Homo sapiens: one gene and its partner. The protein of the gene in region 2 interacts with the protein of the main gene of each other region in a pairwise test. Each region holds a gene or a part of one and is shown on either strand. Other genes may lie near its edges.

Region 1 (9,299 bases), on a different chromosome or scaffold from region 2:
CCTTAAGGAACCAGTCTTTTCATGCTACCAGCACCATTACCTTGGTTACCTCCCATTGATTTCCCATCACAGCCCCTCTTCTTTCTGGTTTCTACACCCACTCCTTCCTCCCACACCCAGGAACTCATATTATAACCCATTCTTGCCTCCAGCTGGCTTCCAGCTAGTCCCTGCTAAGACATCAGCCAGTGCTGAGGGGCCTCTGATCTGGCCTTCCCCCAGAAGGATTGGCATTTAAAAAGAGCATCCCTAGGAAAAGGCAGCCTTTAAGACTAAGAAGAAGACTGCAATGGGGGTGACAGGTAGGGATGCTTTCTTTCCCAACATCATTGTTTCAGAAAGCTGCTCCTGATGTTGCAATCCCATACAAAGGCCCAGGACCCCGTTGCCTATACTCAGAGGGCTCTGGCCAATAGGGAGGAAGGGGGGTCAGAGGTGTGGCCTGGGTGGAGGGAAACACGGTGCCTCCCTGAAGGCAGACACAGCTGGACACAGCAGTTACTGCACCTGGGGAGCACATCTCTTTACCTGGCCAGATGGAGCAGGGACTCTTTGGTGTTGTGACCAGAGTAGGCGCTGCATTCATAGAAGATCAGATTGTTCTCCTAGAATCATAAAACAGAGCGAATACAAGAGTATTGGAGTGAGAGGGGATTGTGGGGGGTGGTGGGAGAGCCCCCTTGTGCATCTACCTACAGCCTTCACTTCCTCTCGCAGCCCCTTGACCTTCCTCATAATCCTTCCCCACTCTGTACATGGCTGATTTCTGTCTCCACAGCCTCCCTGACAATGCAAGCTCTGTAACCATCTCCCAGGTGAGCTATAACAATTGTAAAACAATGAAACCATACGCTGTCTTAGTTCCTCTTTACACTTTCCCAAATTCCTCTCAAGTACACACATGCTCATTCCAGGTTACACCAGCCCTGTGATTCAGGCAAAGACACAAAGGCCAGGGTGGGCAATATTCTTCCCCCTTTCACAGGCAGATAAGCTGTAGTGAGAGAGGGCACTTGGCTGGCTTGTTCAGTCCCACATTGAGTTAATGGCAGAGCTCCTTGCAGCATGCTTTTCCCAAGACAGTGGCATTCCATAGGCCTTGGGGACAGGTGTCATGAGGCACTCCGGTAGGAATTCTCTTTCGCACCAGTTAATTAATACTCTAGCTGCCCTGGCTGTCAGCACTGGTGCACCAGACTGGCCGTCAGCTCATTAGGATGAGGTTGTGCTGCCTGCATGGTGCGGGAGCCCTTGGTTAAGGCTCATCATATTCCATTGATCACTCCCATTAATAGATTACTGGTGTCATTATGACAATGCTGATGGCACAGGGCCCTGGCTTTTAGATGGCCTGTTCTTGGAGGCTGATGCCCTGAGGGGATGCAGGCCAGTTGAGTGAGGACAGTTCTGTGGCTGTAGCTCAGGAGGCTCTGCCATGCTCCCAGTGCAGCTTTCCCCATCTACACCCACAGGCCAGCTCGACCCTCTGCCCTTTTCACCCAGCCCCATGGGCTCTATTTCTCCTTGTCTGCATTTCTCTCAGATCTGCAATCTCTTGGGTCAGTCTGTCAAAGAGTAGAAGTTCCATGGGGTGGGAATAGTGGGGAGGGGAGAGAAGGACATAGGACTTAGAACTGGAAGACATGATTTGCCTTCCTGCTTTGAGTTCTGACCCCACCTCGGGTGAGCTGTGATAATACGAATGTATCACTTAACTCCCGAGTCTTAGTTTTTTTTTCACTAACAAAAAAAAAAAAGAAAAGAAAAGAGAATGGATAGAATCTTTGGGTCCAGGTATATTTTGAAATCCAGAATTTTCTGAATCTTAGAAAGGTAATACATGTATATACCATATATTATATAATACCCTCAGTGGATTTCAGACAGCACTCTATAATCAAATATATTACTATTTCTTCAGTGAAACCTTTGACTATTCACTCAAAGTGAGGTTACAACCATGAATAGCCTCGTGTCATTTCTGGTCAGATTTTTCTGCCAGATAAAATACAAAACAACCCTTTCTGTTTTCAGAGCTTTTTGGATTTCGGAATTGTGGACATGTAACTGTCTAGTGACCCTCCATGTAGATACCTGCCAGGCCCTTCCTCCTCCTTTTTCCTTGAGTCTTACCATCTGTGCTCGTTCTCCCAGGCTCTGAACTCATGAAACGCTGTTTAGGATGAGCATGCAAAGAATTACAGAATCATGGGGCTGGTAAGCACCCCAACCTCCCAGACACACAGTTCCATGAAAACAAACTCTGAGGCAGTAAAAGAAGCCAAGGAACCACATTTTGTTGCCTGATTTCCATTAAGCCCCATTGATTCCATTTTTGAGCAAGGGGCTCCATGCTTTTTAATGGTAGGTTTTCCAGTGTGTCTCCTGAGTTTATCTTGAGTTCATGACTTTGAGGCTCAATCCTGACAAAAAGGATGAACTCTCTAACACAGTGGTCTGCAGAAGAATACACTGCTTTGCAGAGAGTGAGTTTTTCATCCCTGGGGGTGATCAAGTGGAAATGCAGATTGGAGGGGGATTGAAATAAGTAAACTATTGCTATCTTAGAATGTATACTTCTGAGTTACAAGGAAGGGACTTTAGGATAATTCCCCATGCCCTAGTGGTCCCTAACCAACTCCATCTTGCAACCTGTGGCTTTCTATGCAAAGTTCTACATGCACAGGAGCTGAGCCATTCCCAGGATACCAAGACACCCATGTTTTCCAGTTGCTTCCTTCCCATGGCACTTCCAGAGAAAGTCCCCACCAAGGCTCTTGGGCACTTGCCCAACTTCCCTCGGGGTCACACTCTGTCCAGAGAGATGGAAATGCTTGCTCTTTACCGTGGCAAGCTGCTCTCCGAGGCCCCGGGGGACTTCCCGCTCCTTCTCGTTGTCAAGCTTATTACCCAGCAGAAGAACAGGCACCCGGTCTCCCACAGCTTCCTGCAGAACAGAAAATGTTTTCAACTGAGAGGGGTGTCATAGGATTGCCCAGAGGGCAGGCTAACAATGCCGGCTGGACAGATGGGACCTCGCTTGAGAATCCCCTGCTGCCATAAAAGGTGAGGCCGTAACAGAGTCATCCTGAAAGCAGAAAACAGCCGCCTTCTCCAAGAGCCTCAGTTTATCATGCTTTTGCAAGGTGCCTGAGGCCTGCCTGTGGTGTCTCCTAGTCCCTGTGTGTGCAATGACCGCTCCCCCTTCACGATGCTCCTTGGATCTTAGATGGAACAGCAGGCCCCCCAAGGTGTGCTGGATGAGGGGACAGTTGATGCCAACAGGCTGCATGCCTCCTTCCAGAGCTTACAGCACCCTGAGGGCGTGCCTAATTGGCCAGGCTTAGTCCGATGGACCAAGGCCATGAATGCCCCATGGTTTGGAGTTGTTCTGGAGGCTGCTTTGATTAGAAACTGCATCACTAGAGGCCTCCTGATTGCACATAAGCTTCTGAGGGTTGGATCCAAATCTGCCTCATGGTCTTGCGCCCACAAGGCTCCATAAATGACTGCCATGTGCCTTGCTGGAGGCTGGCACCACAGACCCCTGTCACTGGGCGCTTTGGCTCTGAAGAAAGCCCTGTGTAAGAAGGAACACTGTGGCCATAGCAGCTGCACTGCTTGGGCCAGAAGTCACAGGTTTATTCAAGGTATCACATTGTTTACTTCCCCAATGGCTGTGGCTTACCAGCCAGGGGCCTGCTTCCCGGGTCTCCACCTCCTCCCTGGTGAAAGGGGCACCGTGTGTGTCTCTCCTGAGGGCGCCCAAAGGGCCCGGGACCACCGACTGCCATTCAGTGAGTAAATGTGGTAATGTGCACATTGAAGAAGGTTGTTATTTTTACTTAAATATTTAATTAGGGGCTTTTAATCATAATTTAGTAACAAATAGTTATTCATTGTAGCTAAATGTTTTACTAAATAGAGGGACCTGTGGGATAACAGAAGCTAATAAGCAGTTACAGTTTTGCCAATACTTTAGCTGTTTTACTTGAGCATTTCAAATAAATGTCCAAAGTCCATCTTACAGATATACCAATTTTAAATTTAAATGCTATTATGTTTGAAATTAAGCCTCAATGTTTCCTTAATCTGTGCATTCGTTTTTACTGCCATTTAATAGGGGAAAAAAATTCTTATTTAACAAATGAGAAAGTTAAGGCTCAGAGAATCAAAAAGAACATTCAACACCATAAGCACTGAATTATGAGAACTCTTTAGTATATGGGTCCTCACTTCTCCAACCTTTTCCTCTAGATTCTTATTTCCAATCAAGTCTCTGCTACTTAGTATCTTATTAACTGGAACCCTCTAAAAATGGTATCTATTGGTCAGATGGTAACTTGTGTTTGCAATGATGACTCAAAGGCGCTACAAGATCTTACAGTGTCTTCTGACCCATCAAAAATAGATTAAATTCTGGACACTGCAGTTGATGTCCTAAGTGGATTGTACATATTCCAACTACTTGAAAGTGAGAAAGCCACTGATGGCATATATGGAACCCTGTGGCCCCCTATTAGCTAGAGCGTTCACTAATGGGAACACCCCCTCCTCTGACCGTGCTGTGCCACGGGATACTTGTGCGAAGAGCTTTTCACGGAAAGGGAAGAAAGGAGGAGGAAGCAGGGAAATGGGCCAAGCGGCTTGCTGTTTAGAGCACATGGGAGAGAGATATTTGTAGATTTATGTGTGAGGAATGATTAAGGCTTGTGGGATTTCTTGACATGGAAACTCTGAAAATATGAGCATCAGACTTGAAATCCCAGGGCAGAATTCTACCCCAGGTTTTGGTATTATTTGGAATGGGCACTGGCTTCTGTTTCCTCGCTTGCAGAGGGGATGATGGATACTGAATGACCCAATAGGATGGGGTAGGGAATGGGTCATAAGCCCAACATCTGGGTCCTATGCACCATAAACAGCAATGGTGCCTCTTGCGTCCTGGGAAAAGAAAGGGCAGGTTTCTTCTTTTTTTTTTTTTTTGGGAGGCCGAGGTGGGTGGATCATGAGGTCAGGAGTTCAAGACCAGCCTGGCCAAGATGGTGAAACCCTGTCTCTACTAAAAATACAAAATTTAGCCAGGTGTGGTGGTGGGCACCTGTAGTCCCAGCTACTTGGGAGGCTGAGGCAGAGAATTGCTTCAACCTGGGAGGCGGAGCTTGCAGTGAGCCAAGATTGTGCCACTGCACTCCAGCCTCAGTGACAGAGAGAGACTCTGTCAAAAAAAAAAAAAAAAAAAAAAAAAAAAAAAAACCAAAGCAATTCCTGGATATAAAAATAAAGGAGCTTAGAAGGAGCAGAAAAAAAAAATTTAAAAGCAAAGCACTCAGCAGGAGCTGCGGTTTCTGTTCTTTGTATTGTTCCTCTCTTACACAGCCACTCTGGACAACTGGCTTCCCTGCAGGGACCCTGGCCTGCCACCGATAAAGGAGAAACAGACTCATCTCCAAATATTTGGCAAAAATAAATGAGAATACCCATAAGACCAGGGAGTGTGCTAACTATCACAGTCAGTCACCATCACCCTGGCCCAAGGTCATCAGTCTCTGGCACAGGGGCAGGGAGAGGAGCTGGTATTGGGGTAGGTGTCTCATGGTCCTCTCTGACTTTGACCCCAAAAGTCTGGAACTATCTGTCTAAACTTTACACCTTTCTCATACCTAACTAGGTTTTCAGCCTGCATACCACTCAGCACAAGATGTTCAAAATTACCTCCTAGATGAAGCAACACCTCCTTCAAGCCCCTAGGGCTTTGGTGAACAGGTCTCAGGTCTACTCAAACTCTGTTGTCTTGAGACTGTGAGAGATGTTGGTAAAAATCCCATCAGCATGACAGGTTGGAGTGAAGTCATCTTAGCTCCTTCATCAGGCACACAATCTCTCTTTAGGAGATGTGGGTTCTGCCCTAGCTCTGTCACCATCTCTCCATGTGACTCATCTGAGTCTCTCCTCTTTTCTGTGTCTCTCTGTTCCAAAGCCAGGTTCTGTTCTATGACCCTCTAACAGAGAGCCTTCCCTCCACCTTCAGTTATTTCAGCTGCCTTTCTGTGAACTTGAGCTTGTTGGAAGACAGACTTGTTGAAATTCAAAAGATCACCCATCTCTGACTTTAAATAACAAGAGCTGTCAACTTGGAGCAGTGGATTGGCATTCAGCTCAGAATGTGCAGCTGCTGGGTTTGGTTGGTTGTTGCCTATGTGCATGTGTGTGTGTGTGTGTGCGTGCGTTTTAATATCTATTTGCTAGGAGGCATGAAAAAGCACTTAGCTGGGATAGTGCTGCTATTTCTCTGGAGCTAGAGCAAAAATTTTTTCAGCACATTAAAGCATGCAGTTATGCTAAGAAAAAAAATGCCTGCAAAATTATATCTTGGGGGTTTCCATATTTATCCATCCCCTGGACTATGAGTCAAAACAAGATTTATTTGTGTGGTTCATTTTAAACTGCCAGCACTTCAAGCTCAACTTGGAACGTGGAGAAAAAAAAATCAAACTGCTATTTTTTGCACCATGCTGTACATTGTCACCAATGACAAAGATCGCAGAATGAGGTTTAGCTAGCAGCCCAGGAAGGGAGAGGGAAGTGGGCCAGGACCCCTTGAGCTGAAGAACTGTTCTGCTTTGAGAGAGAAGCAAGAAGGACTGAAAAGTAAATGAACACCTGCTTTTCAGGAGCAGATTTCAGCCATGGACCACAGGACAAGAGAGAAGCAGTGCAGTGTGGCAAAGCCCTCGCTTCTAGATCGGGTGGTGCTGCTGACAAGTGTGGGCGCCTTTGGGAAAGTCACTTCCTCTTTTTGGATCATAGTTTTTCTTACTTATAAAACAAGAGGTTGCATTAGATTAATCTCCACGTTTTTTTCCAGCTCGGAAACACTGGTCTATTCGGCTTAACTCCGCCAATTCTATTTCACTTCCTCGACTCACATGCCCAGGAATCTAGTGCCATCAGAACGACAAGAGGCTCTAAACAAGAAGCTCAGCATCCCAGGACTGCAGACACTGGGGGCCAGCAATCCGGCTCTGGGGGAAATACCAGCCCATACAGGCTTGTACAGGCTGGCGTTCTAATTTCTATTTTCTCTACCCGACACAGGCCCCAGAGTCTTCTGATGTCCAGTTTGTCCCATGGCCACACGTGGGGCCTTAGAGCCTGACTAGTTTCTTTTCCAGATTGGAATGGTTAAACCAATTCTACCCAATTGAGATAAGAAATTGGGGGTGGGTTGGAAATGCCGAGTTGGCCGAAAGACTGCCTGCGGTGACTTCCTATAAGGCACTCAGGAGAATCGGCACAGAGGGCATCTGCTGGGCCTCTTCTGCAGAAGGCCTGCAGGCAAGGTAAAGTTGCCTAGACTGGGTGAAATAGCAGAACAAGGGCAAGGCCACAGTCTTCCCATCTCATCAAGCAGTGCTGGTGCTCTCTTGCACCAAAGGATTTTGGTTCCCTCTGGGCTGGAAGGACCCTCCAGAATCTCCTCATCCACACACATTCCTGCTCCGTCTTGGCCTCCCAGAGAGATAGTCAAATGCCATCATACACTGTAGAAATTTAGGGGCCAGGAGGGAGCATTTGGTCTGCTGCCTTGTTGAATGATTGGCCAAAGTTTCATGGCCAGGAAGTGATCAAGATGGGATAGTAAGAACTTCCTTTCAGGGAACTCCACTACCTCCCCCGAGCATCTGTTCCCACCCCACACAACCTCTTCCAAGAGTCTTTCCCATGCAGGCATGTACAGCAACTGAAGCCCTTTTTTCTTGTATGCTTTTCAGGTTGAGGGAGGAAGGGGGACTGTGAACAGCTGGCCACCATTCACTTACTAATAAGGCTTCAGAACCTTGAAGACTGTTATTAAAGCTCCCCCTCCACCCTCCCTTCTCCAGGCGAGGGAGTTGGTAAAGTGCTCAGAGCTCTTTGGAAAAATAAGGTGCTCCACAAATATAAGGTACTTATTATTTTCAGTTCCCCTCAGATCAAATTAGGTGTCAAGTTTTAATCTATCACCTGACACCTCTGATTGCTGGTTGCCAAGGCAGAATGACTTAGCTTTTCAAGAATCTAGAGAATAATTGCATTTATGATGCCACCGTTCCACACCTTCAACACACACTCTGCCATTTGACACAGCCTCCTGCACTTGTTTCTGAAACTCTGTGCTGCTGAACTGAACGCATTGCCTGGTCTATCATACTGAGTCCCAGAGCTCCTAGTGTGTGCTGGACATGCCGCAGATGTGTAGTAAAACCTTGGTGAGGGGTCACAGGCATCTTCGGAAATGACTTAGAGCTCTTCTACTCACAGGGTCATCCCTGGACCACCAGCATCAGCCTCACATGAGAACTTGCTAGAAACACAGAATCTCAGACCCCAGTCCCGACCTGCTGAAGCAGAGACTGCATTTTAAGAAGTTCCCCAGGAGAGTCCTATATATGTTAGGGTTCAAGGAGCGCTTGTTTAGCCGGGAACAGTGGTGGCTGAGAATCAAAATTCCCTGGGGAGCTGTTCGTTTTATTTTTTATTTGCAGGCTCTGAACCACTCTGGGAGAGAAGGCCCTGGCCCCTGGCCTCTGTTCCCTTTAAAAGCTCCACGTGTGATCCTGATGTTCACCCAGGTTTAGAATAATCAATTAGAGCTTAAATGTACCTTTGGCTAATATCTTAAAAAAAAGGAAAAACTCAAACTAGAAATCATATAGAAAAGCCCTGTTTACACATAAGCAATTCTGATTTAACTATGTATAGATTTGCCATCTCAGCCAGGCTTCCCGAGCCCACAGACACACCAAGGCTTCCGTGGGCCTCTTAGCAGCCACACGCCGCTGATGATTTCAGCCCCGTCCCACAAAGCAACGTCTCTGGAGGATGACTAAACTGATGCTTCAAGCTGTGATGATGGTCTTCTGAGATGTCTTCACCTCCACCACCAAACTGTTCCACCTCTTCTTCTAGATCCCAGGCTCTGTGCAAAACAGGAGCCTTAGAAACGACACCCCCTAATGACAGCAGAGAGCGTAGTTCCCCAAATTTGTCACCATCCATTCCCATTAATCCCAGACCACCTGGAGGCTTAGCCCTAGCACACACCAAAATTTAGATACTGGGGGACAACTAAATGTCTGTGAAAAGGACAGGTGACCCTGGAGAAGTTAGGCCTTCCCTTTCTTCACTTTTGAATGAGATGGCCATACTAGATGGGAGATTTTCAAAGGGAAACTCTTTTGTCTAACAAAATTGTAGCTGACCTCCAATATGCTGAAAAAGGCAAGGCAGCTCTGACGGAGATGGGGGATGAGGGA
Region 2 (9,299 bases):
ACCTCCTGGAATTATAATTTTGTTTTGTTTTTTGAGACGGAGTATCGCTCTGTTGCCTAGGCTGGAGTGCAGTGGTGCCAACCTCAGCTCACTGCAGCCTTCACCTCCCAGGTTCAAGGAATTCTCCTGCCTCAGCCTCCCGCGTAGCTGGGATTACAGGCATGTGCCACCACGCCCGGCTAATTTTTGTATTTTTAGTAGAGACGGGGTTTCACCATGTTGGCCAAGCTGGTCTCGATCTCCTGACCTCAGGTGATCCACCAGCCTCAGCCTCCCAAAGTGCTAGGATTACAGGTGTGAGCCACCATGCCCGGCCTATAATTTTTTATTTGTACAAATTTATGGGCTACAAGTGCCATTTTGTTACCTGCATAGATTGTATTTTTTTAAGAAGTGGCATTACCTGATTATTTGTACGTAACTTTTTTCTTTATTTTGTCACCTAAAGAAGAGTATCAATTGGGTGTATGCTGCTACTCAACTAGGAAACAAGTTATTAACTCACATAGAATTAACTTTGATTCAAACCATTCAGGTTATTCCTGATTATAGGTTATTTCTTTCTCAAGAGGACATATAATCTCTCTAGAATCTTTCACCATAAGAACTTCAGTATAAAACTAAACACAATATACTTACTAAAAGCTCCTTAAACTCAGGCATGACTAATAATTAGTACAGAAGTTTTTCACATAAAGCTGTCCTACATGTCCTTTTCATGTTTTCCTATTTATTAACATCTTAGTAATTTACTCAGCTACATATCTACTTTAAATATCTTCCAACATTTTAAATATTAGTTTTCCAGACGGCATTTCACTTGTCCTGTAAAACAGAAAGGGTGATAAATTTATTAAATTTCTAATTTACCATCCCTGGTTCTTTCTTTCCAGGCAATTAGATGATAAATGTGCTTTAAAATTCTCTTCATCACATCACGCTAAAAGTTACCTATCAAATGTTCCTGTTATGCCTATCTTTTTTCAGCAAAAATACTGACTGTATTGTCTATTAATTTATTCAGCTTTTGGCAATCTATTTTTATGGATTTCTAAAACCTTGAATTTGGCCAGTGTAGTGGCTCACACCTGTCATCATAGTACTCTGGAGTGCTGTGATGGGATGCTGTGAAGGGAGGATCACTTCAGGTTAGGAGCTAGAGACCAGCCAGAGCAACAGAAGAGCACCATCTCTATAAAAAATTTAAAAATTAGCCAGGTGTAGTGGCATGCACCTGTAGGCCCAGCTACTCAGGAAGCTGAGGCAGAACTATTGCCTGAACCCAGGAGTTCGAGGCTGCAGTGAGCCATGATCACACCACTGCACTCCAGGCTGGGCAACAGAGCAAGACCCTGTCTCAAAAAACTAAAATAAAACCTTGAATTCACTCTAAGCATATATTACAGACTCAAAGATTTTGTAATCCTGTGGCTACTATGTTGAAGAATTTTAACTCTTCCAAAGACAATTAAAATACCAAAATTTTTCTTCTGTATGTCAAATTTATATGATGAAAATTAGCTTTATTGGATTTCAGGGACTTTTCATTCCTATGGTTCATTTTACCTTTCTAAAATACTATATTTCAGTTTCATTTTCTTGGTTGTTTTACTTAATTGTACTGAGCCTCCTTCTCTTTATAAATGGTTCGCCCACACATGTACACACACTGTAACTGGAAAAACCACCACTAATCCTACAGTTTCTTGTGTTCTTCCAGCTTTCTTATTCTTCACAGAAATTTTTTAACTACACAGTGCTTCACTTCCTTATCAACTCGTCTTAATCCCTTTCCAATTCAACTTTACTCTGCCATACCACCCAATCATTATAGTATCAAGTCTCCAATGACCACTTCCTCACTGAACCCAAAGATTGCAATTTTCATGCTTCTCTGGTGCATCAGACACTAGTGATCAAGCATCCCATGTCACTAAAGCCAAAGACAAAAACATTTCATTGTGTTTCCAGTTACAACTCTTACACTATTCTTTATCAAATACACAAACTCATCAAATCCTAGGCTTCAATTTTACTTGGATAGCTTCCAATCTCCAGCCTACTCTCTCAACCTCTTCATATGTCTGTTACATGAAGGCATCTCCAGTTGTGCTACACAAGCATGGAAACTTATTGTACTAAAACCAGTACTCATCTCCTTTCCCAACCAGAAAATCTGGTCCCACATTACCTCCCTGTACATAATACACATTAAACGTTGAACAATACTTAGTCCAGGAGAAAAATAAACAGGTTTATGATACTCATATCAATTTATAAGCTTTTGGAGGAAATAGATGGTATTTTCACAATATACACAAAATGTGTTTGTGCCTTTTTATTAAATTTTACCCTTTGTTTTACTAAAAACAATATAACATTTTTTAAAAAGTGTAAGCAATCTTGGCCAGGTGTGGTAGCTAACGCCTGTAATCCCAGCACTTTGGGAGACCAAGGCGGGTGGATCGCCTGAAGTCAGGAGTTCGAGACCTGCCTGACCAATATGGTGAAACCCCGTCTCTACCAAAAATACAAAAAAATTAGCCAGGTGTGGTGGCGGGCACCTGTAGTCCCAGCTACTTGGGAGGCTAAGCCAGGAGAATTGCTTGAACCCAGGAGGCAGAGGTTGCAGTGAGCCAAGATGGCGCCACTGCACTCCAGCCTGCGCAACAGAGCAGGATTCTTGTCTCAAAAAAAAAAAAAAAAAAAAAAAGAGTGTAAGCAATCTTTAATTGGAGGCCATTTGGCTAAGATGGTCCTAGGACTCTGGGTTCCTATGTAAGCAAACTGAAGCCCAATGTAAACAGTGAAACAAAACTTAATCTTTGCTTTTTATTTTTTAATTATAAACTGACTATAGTTATATATTTATGAGGTACAAAGTGATGATTTATGAATACAATGTGGAATAATTAAATCTAGTTAACATATCCATGACCTCAAATTTTTTTTGTAGTGAAAACTTTTAAAAGTTACTCTTAGCAAGTATAAAGTACATTATTAGTCACTATATTCACCATACTGTGCAACATATCTCAAAGAAAAAAATTCCTCCCCTTTGACTATCATCTCCCCATTCCCCCATGCCTTCCCTCCAACCCTGGTAACCACTGTTCTACTCTCTGCTTCTTTTAGTTCAACGGTTTTAGATTAAATATATAAGTAAGCACATATGTTGTTTGTCTGCTTGTACTTGGCTTATCTCATTTAGCTTAATGTTCTCCAATCCATCCATGTCGTCACAAATGACAAAGTTTCTTTCATTTTTAAGGCTGAATAGTATTCCACTACGTATGTACACCAGATTTTTCTTTATCCATTCATCTGTCTAAGGACCCTTAGGTTGATTCCGTATCTTGGCTATTGTGATTAATGCTGCAATGAACATGGGAGTGCAGATATCTCTTCAACATACTGATTTCCAATCTTTTAGGTAAATACCCAGAAGTTGGATTGCTGGATCATATGGTAATTCTATTTTTAGTTTTTTGAGGAACTGCCACTGTTTTCCATAACGGTTGTACTAATTTACATTGCCATTAACAGTGTACAGAGGTTCCCCTTTCTCCACATGCCTTGCCAACACTTATCTTTCATCTGTTTGATAGTAGCCATTCTGACACATATTGGGGTGATATCTCATAGTGGTTTTAATTTGCATTTCCCTGATGATTAGTAATGTTGAACATTTTTTCATGTATCTGTTGGCCATTTGTATGTCTTCTTTTGAGAAATGTCTATACAGGTTCCTTGCCCATTTTTTAACTGGATTATTTGTATTCTTTCTATAGAGTTATTTGAGTTCCTTTTATATTCTGAATTTTAATCCCTTATCTCATGTATGGCTTGCAAATATTTCCTCCCAATCCATAGGATGTCACAACTTAATTTTAATCAGAAACCAACAACTATTCTCTAACAAGCAACTTTCTGCCAGATTGTACCCAAATAAGACAAACAAGTAGCTATGACAATCAAGTAATTTTTTTTTTTTCAAGACAGGGTCTCGCTCTGTTGCCCAGGCTGGAGTGCAGTGGCACAATCACAACTCACTGCAGCCTCAACCTCCCAGGCTCAAGCAATCCTCCCACCTCAGCCTCCCAAGTAGCTGGGACTACTGGCATGTGCCACCATGCCTGGCTAATTTTTGCATTTTTTGTAGAGATGGAGTTTCACCATGTTGCCCAGGCTGGTCTTGAACTCCTGAGCTCAAGTGATCCACCTACCTCAGCCTCCCAAAATGATGGGATTACAGGTATGAGCCACTATGCCCAGTCCAATCAAGTAATTTCTTTACTTCGCTTCCACATTCAGCCTGCAAAGGTCTGCCGCTTACTCTGTTAAAACAAGAGCTCCCTGAACTACTTCTAATTTTGGGTGCTGCCAAATTCATTAATCCTTTAACACAAAAACAAATTCTGATAAATTGATTTCGTCTAAAGTTTTTCTTTTAACAAAGTCAAAATGAAGTTACCAAGGAAGCCCTGAAGGCTTTTTGTGATAAGGCTTAAAAGATTACATGATAGTAAAAGGTTACATGCTGAAAGATTCTCAACTAAAGAGCCTTATCATACATCAAGAGCCAGAGTTTCTTACATATTCTTCTTGTTTCCAATCTCTTTTCCTCTTTCCAATACACGCTCTACTGTGCACTCAGAATTACTTACCTAAAATATGAAACTGAGGTCAGTAATCAAAATGTCTTCCTGCTGCATATAAAATAAATTCAAATCCTTTAATCTGGCATTCAACTACTTACCATCTGGTCAATCTGGTATCAGTGTATTTGTCAAATTTCACTTCCCACTGACGTACTCCCCTGCCCCTCATGCTCCAATCACACCACCCTCCTCATTCTTTAAGACCTAGCTCAAATGAGCGAACTAATGTTATGTGGCAAGCAATGACTATGCACTGAGACCACCAAAATAAATAAGATAGTCCCCGGCTATCAAGAATCATATTTGGTGGAGAAACACACAAGCAAACAAATCTATGTTATTTAATATAAAAGATGTGATATAAAATACAAGCAGAGGGGTGGGTATGGTGCTCGTGCCTGTAATCTCAGCAATTTGGGAGGCCAAAGCAAGGGGATCACTTGAAGTCAGTAGTTTGAGACCAGCCTGGGCAATATAGTGAGACCATGTCTCTACAAAAATGTAAAAATTAGCTGGGCATAGTGGCACATGTCTGCAGTCCTAGCCACTCTGGAGGATAAAGCAGAAGGATCTCTTGAGCCCAGAAGTTCAAGGCTGCAGTGAGCTATCATAAGGCCCCTACACTTCAGCCTGAACAACACAGCAATACTCTGTCTCTAAAACTAATAACAAATAAATAAAATACAACCAGAATACAGAAAGGCAAATTACCAATTCAAAGTAGCAGAATCAGAGAAAGCTTCATAGAAAAAACAAAAAGGTGTTCATGTGTCAGAGAATAATGGTTAACACTTATGTAGCACTAACTATATGCTAGATTCTATTCCAAGTGCTTTATGTATATTAACTCATTTAATCCTTATTTTCTACGATGATGAAAATTGCTTAAGTAAAACAAATGTAGTATCATTTATTGAACATTTACAACATGCCAGGAACTGTGCTAAGCACTGAACAGGAACAAAATGAAATTAAGGCCTACAATTTTAAAAAGAACAAAAAAGGAAGCCGGGCAAGTGGCTCACACCTGTAATCCCAGCACTTTGGGAGGCTTGAGGGGGCAAATCACTTGAGCCCAGGAGTTCAAGACCAGCCTGGGCAACATGGCAAAACCCTATCTCTTACAAAAAATACAAAAAAAATTAGCCAGGCGTGGTGGTGCACACCTGTAGTTCCAGCTACTGAGAAGGCTGAGGTGGGAGGATCACTTTAGCCCAGGAGGTTGAGGCTACAATGAGCCAAAACCATGCCATTGCACTCTAGTCTAGGCAACAAAGTGAGACTCTGTCTCCAAAAAAAAAAAAAAAAGTGAGAGATGGTAGTTATCTCATTTTGTACCTCCATTGGTAGGGCTTAACCCCTTTGAGATTCTTTCCATTTTTTTTTTCTTTTGAGACAGAGTTTCACTCTTGTTGCCCAGTCTGGAGTACAATGGCGCCATCTTGGCTCACCACAATGTCTGCCTCCCAGGTTCAAGTGATTCTCCTGCTTCAGCCTCCAGAGTAGCTGAGATTACAGGCATGAGCCACCACGCCTGTCTAATTTTCTATTTTCAGGAGAGACAGGGTTTCTCCAGGTTGGTCAGGCTGGTCTTGAATTCCCAACCTCAGGTGATCCGCCTGCCTCAGCCTCCCAAAGTGCTGGGATTACAGGCGTGAGCCACCACGCCCGGCGGAGATTCTTTTTTAATTAGGACAAAATAAAATAGGACTTTTTAAAACAGGATTTAAAAGATTCACCTAATTACTTATCTCCTACAGCCATAATTTTCTTTTTAAACAACAGTATGCCTTGCCCAATTTTTTCAACAGCATTGATTTATTCAACAAGTACTGGCTGGGTGCCATGGCTCACATCTGTAATCCCAACACTCTGGGAAACCAAGAATTCAAAAAATAAAAAAATTAGCTAGGCAGGCTGGTGCACACCTGTAGTCCCAGCTACTCAGGAGGCTGAGGTGATGGGAGGATCGCTTGAGCCCCAGAGGTTGGGATGGCAGTGAGCAGTGATCATGCAACTGCACTCTAGCCCGGGTGACAAAGCGAGACCCTGTCTCAAAAACAAACAAACAAACAAAAAAACAATGGATTACTCACTCTATGCAAGGCAAACTAAGCACATACATTTTCCTCCGCTTCCTAACAAAATCGCACTGAAATGCACTCATTCATTCTGGAAGAGAAAGCAGGTAGGATTATGCTGAGGATTAAGCCAGTGCAGAGAAAACTGCAGTCCAGAACACACACACATGCATACATGAGAAGGCTATAGCAATGTAGAAGACATTCTTGCCAGCAGAGCCTGGAGAGGTACCAATCTTAGAAACAAGCAGAGGAAGGACGTAGGACTAAAATCAGAATTATTATAATATTTATATGAAACAGCAAGCCAAACTTTTTACCACAGCCCTTTACACACAAAACGCCTGGCAGCAACAGTATTTGTTTCTGGCTAAAACCACATCTATTTTGTTGTTATTGCTCTTTTTAATTTAACAGTCTACCCTGGAAGCCTTTGAGCATCTTCATGTTCCATAACAAAGCATTCCTTATTTGGGTACAGGGTGGAAGGAGAGGAGGAAAGAGGCAACTCGTTTCTTGCACTTCACTCAAGGACCCTAAAGTTAGACCCAACAGCTAGTACCCTGCTCACTTACAAAAGAGCTCAATAATTTTTTTTTTTTTAGATGAAGTTTCACTTTTGTCATCCAGGCTGGAGTGCAATGGCGCAATCTCGGCTCACTGCAACCTCCGCCTCCCAGGTTTAAGTGATTCTCCTGCCCCAGCCTCTTGAGTAGCTGGGATTACAGAAGCCTGCCAAGACTTCCGGCTAATTTTTTTATTTTCGGAGAGACAGGGTTTCACCATGTTGGCCAGGCTGGTCTTGACCTTCCAGACCTCAGGTGATCTCTCAAAGTGCTGGAATTACCGGTGTGAGCCACTATGCCCCGCCAAGAATTTTTTTTTTTGAAGTAAAAGCACAACAGACAGAAAGGATGAAAATAAACAACTGACCTGAAAGAAGCAGAGCTATTTCCGGGAATGGGACATAAATATTTAAAAGTTATAAGTGTTATCCTCAAAGAAATTCATGTCATGAGAACAATGCATCCATTAAAAATAACTAGATGACTAGAAACTGTGGGGAAAAAACCACTGAAAAAAGAAAGTGAAAAGAACTGAAAATCAAGGAAATGGACCTCTTGGATTGATCCTTCGTATTATGTATTTTTTCTTTTTATATTTTTCCTCTGTATTTGGAAGAATCTATCTAAATGTATTTGGAAGAACCTATCTAAATTCTGAATAGAACAGAGAAAATGTCAAGAACATAATTAAAGAAATAATTGAAGAAAATTTCCCAGAAGTGAAAAATAGGATTCATAGAGTGCCAAGAAGGATGAATGAAAAAAGATTCACCACCTAGAAACACTGATAAAATATCACAGAACCAATGATAAAGAAAACAGTCTAATAAAATCTTCCAGAGAAAAAAGTATGATACCTGCAAAAGAAAGAGACTGGCATTAGACTTGTCATCAGATACACTAGACACAAAAAGCAAGAGAATGTCTTCAGAGTTTTGAAGAAAACAAAATGATTGTGGACTAAGTCTATTCCCAAGCTATCATTAAATGAGCAGGCAAGGTAAAGGCATTTTCAGACATATGAAGTCTGTGGAAATTAAATTACCTGTTTAATCCTTCCTGAAAAAAATTGCTTGAAATTAGTTATACCCCTACAAGGTGGGAAAAAAATCTATGACAAATGAGGACATGGAATACATAAAGCAGTAGACCTAACCCAGGCATGATACAAAAAAATCTCAGTAAACAGGTATGCAACTGACTTGTAAAGCAACTAGTCTAAATTACATGTGTGAGAGCTGGAAATACAGCTTCAGGAGCAAAATGAGTTTATTTTAGCAAACATGGTGCCATTATTAGGAAGCTAATAGGATACCTTAATTGGCAGAGGTAGAATTACATTTTTTCTCTGCAGATGCAATCATACTTAATAGTTTTATAGCGAATGATGATTGTATAATTACAATATGGTAAATAGTTGATAAGTTTTCAATGTTTAAGAATCAACCTATAAATAAAGCATAAAAGACTTGTACTGATTGATGTCCTGTGGCTCCTTAAAATGTGTAAAACCCAAGTGTAGCCCGACCACTTTGGGCACATGCTGTCAGGACCTCCTGAGGCTGTCTGTGACACGTCCTTAACCTTGGCAAAATAAACTTCTAAACTGGTTGAGACTTGTCTCAACTACTTTTTGGTTTTCATCCTCTATTACCTTCCTGAGGCTGCTGTAACAAATGACCACAAACTGAGCAGCTTAGACAGCATAAATTGATTGTCTCACAATTCTAGAAACTAGAGGTCAGAAATCAAGATGTCAGCAGGGCTATTCTCTCTCTCTGAAAGCTCTAAAGAAGGATTCTTCCTTGCCTCTTCCTAGCTTGTGGTGATTACTGGCAATCTTTAGCATTCCTTGTCTTATAGACACATACTGCAATCTTGCTGCCTCCTCCTTCCTGGCATGGCATTCTCCCTGTGTGTCCATGTGTATCCAAATTTCCCTCTTCTTATAAAGATACCAGTCACCAGATTAGGGCCCCCTTTGATTCAGT

The links.
Region 1: the proteins of ASB3 (region 2) and CRACR2A interact in binary tests that used the Homo sapiens proteins (3 or more experiments, as listed by UniProt).

The regions. Positions count from the first base shown.
Region 1 is NC_000012.12:3,616,426-3,625,724, forward strand, and holds part of CRACR2A (EF-hand calcium-binding domain-containing protein 4B), read right to left. Parts: intron 2,948-9,299; coding exon 2,846-2,947; intron 606-2,845; coding exon 529-605; intron 1-528.
Region 2 is NC_000002.12:53,775,460-53,784,758, forward strand, and holds part of ASB3 (ankyrin repeat and SOCS box protein 3), read right to left. Parts: intron 1-9,299. UniProt on the Homo sapiens protein: Probable substrate-recognition component of a SCF-like ECS (Elongin-Cullin-SOCS-box protein) E3 ubiquitin-protein ligase complex which mediates the ubiquitination and subsequent proteasomal degradation of target proteins. Recognizes TNFRSF1B.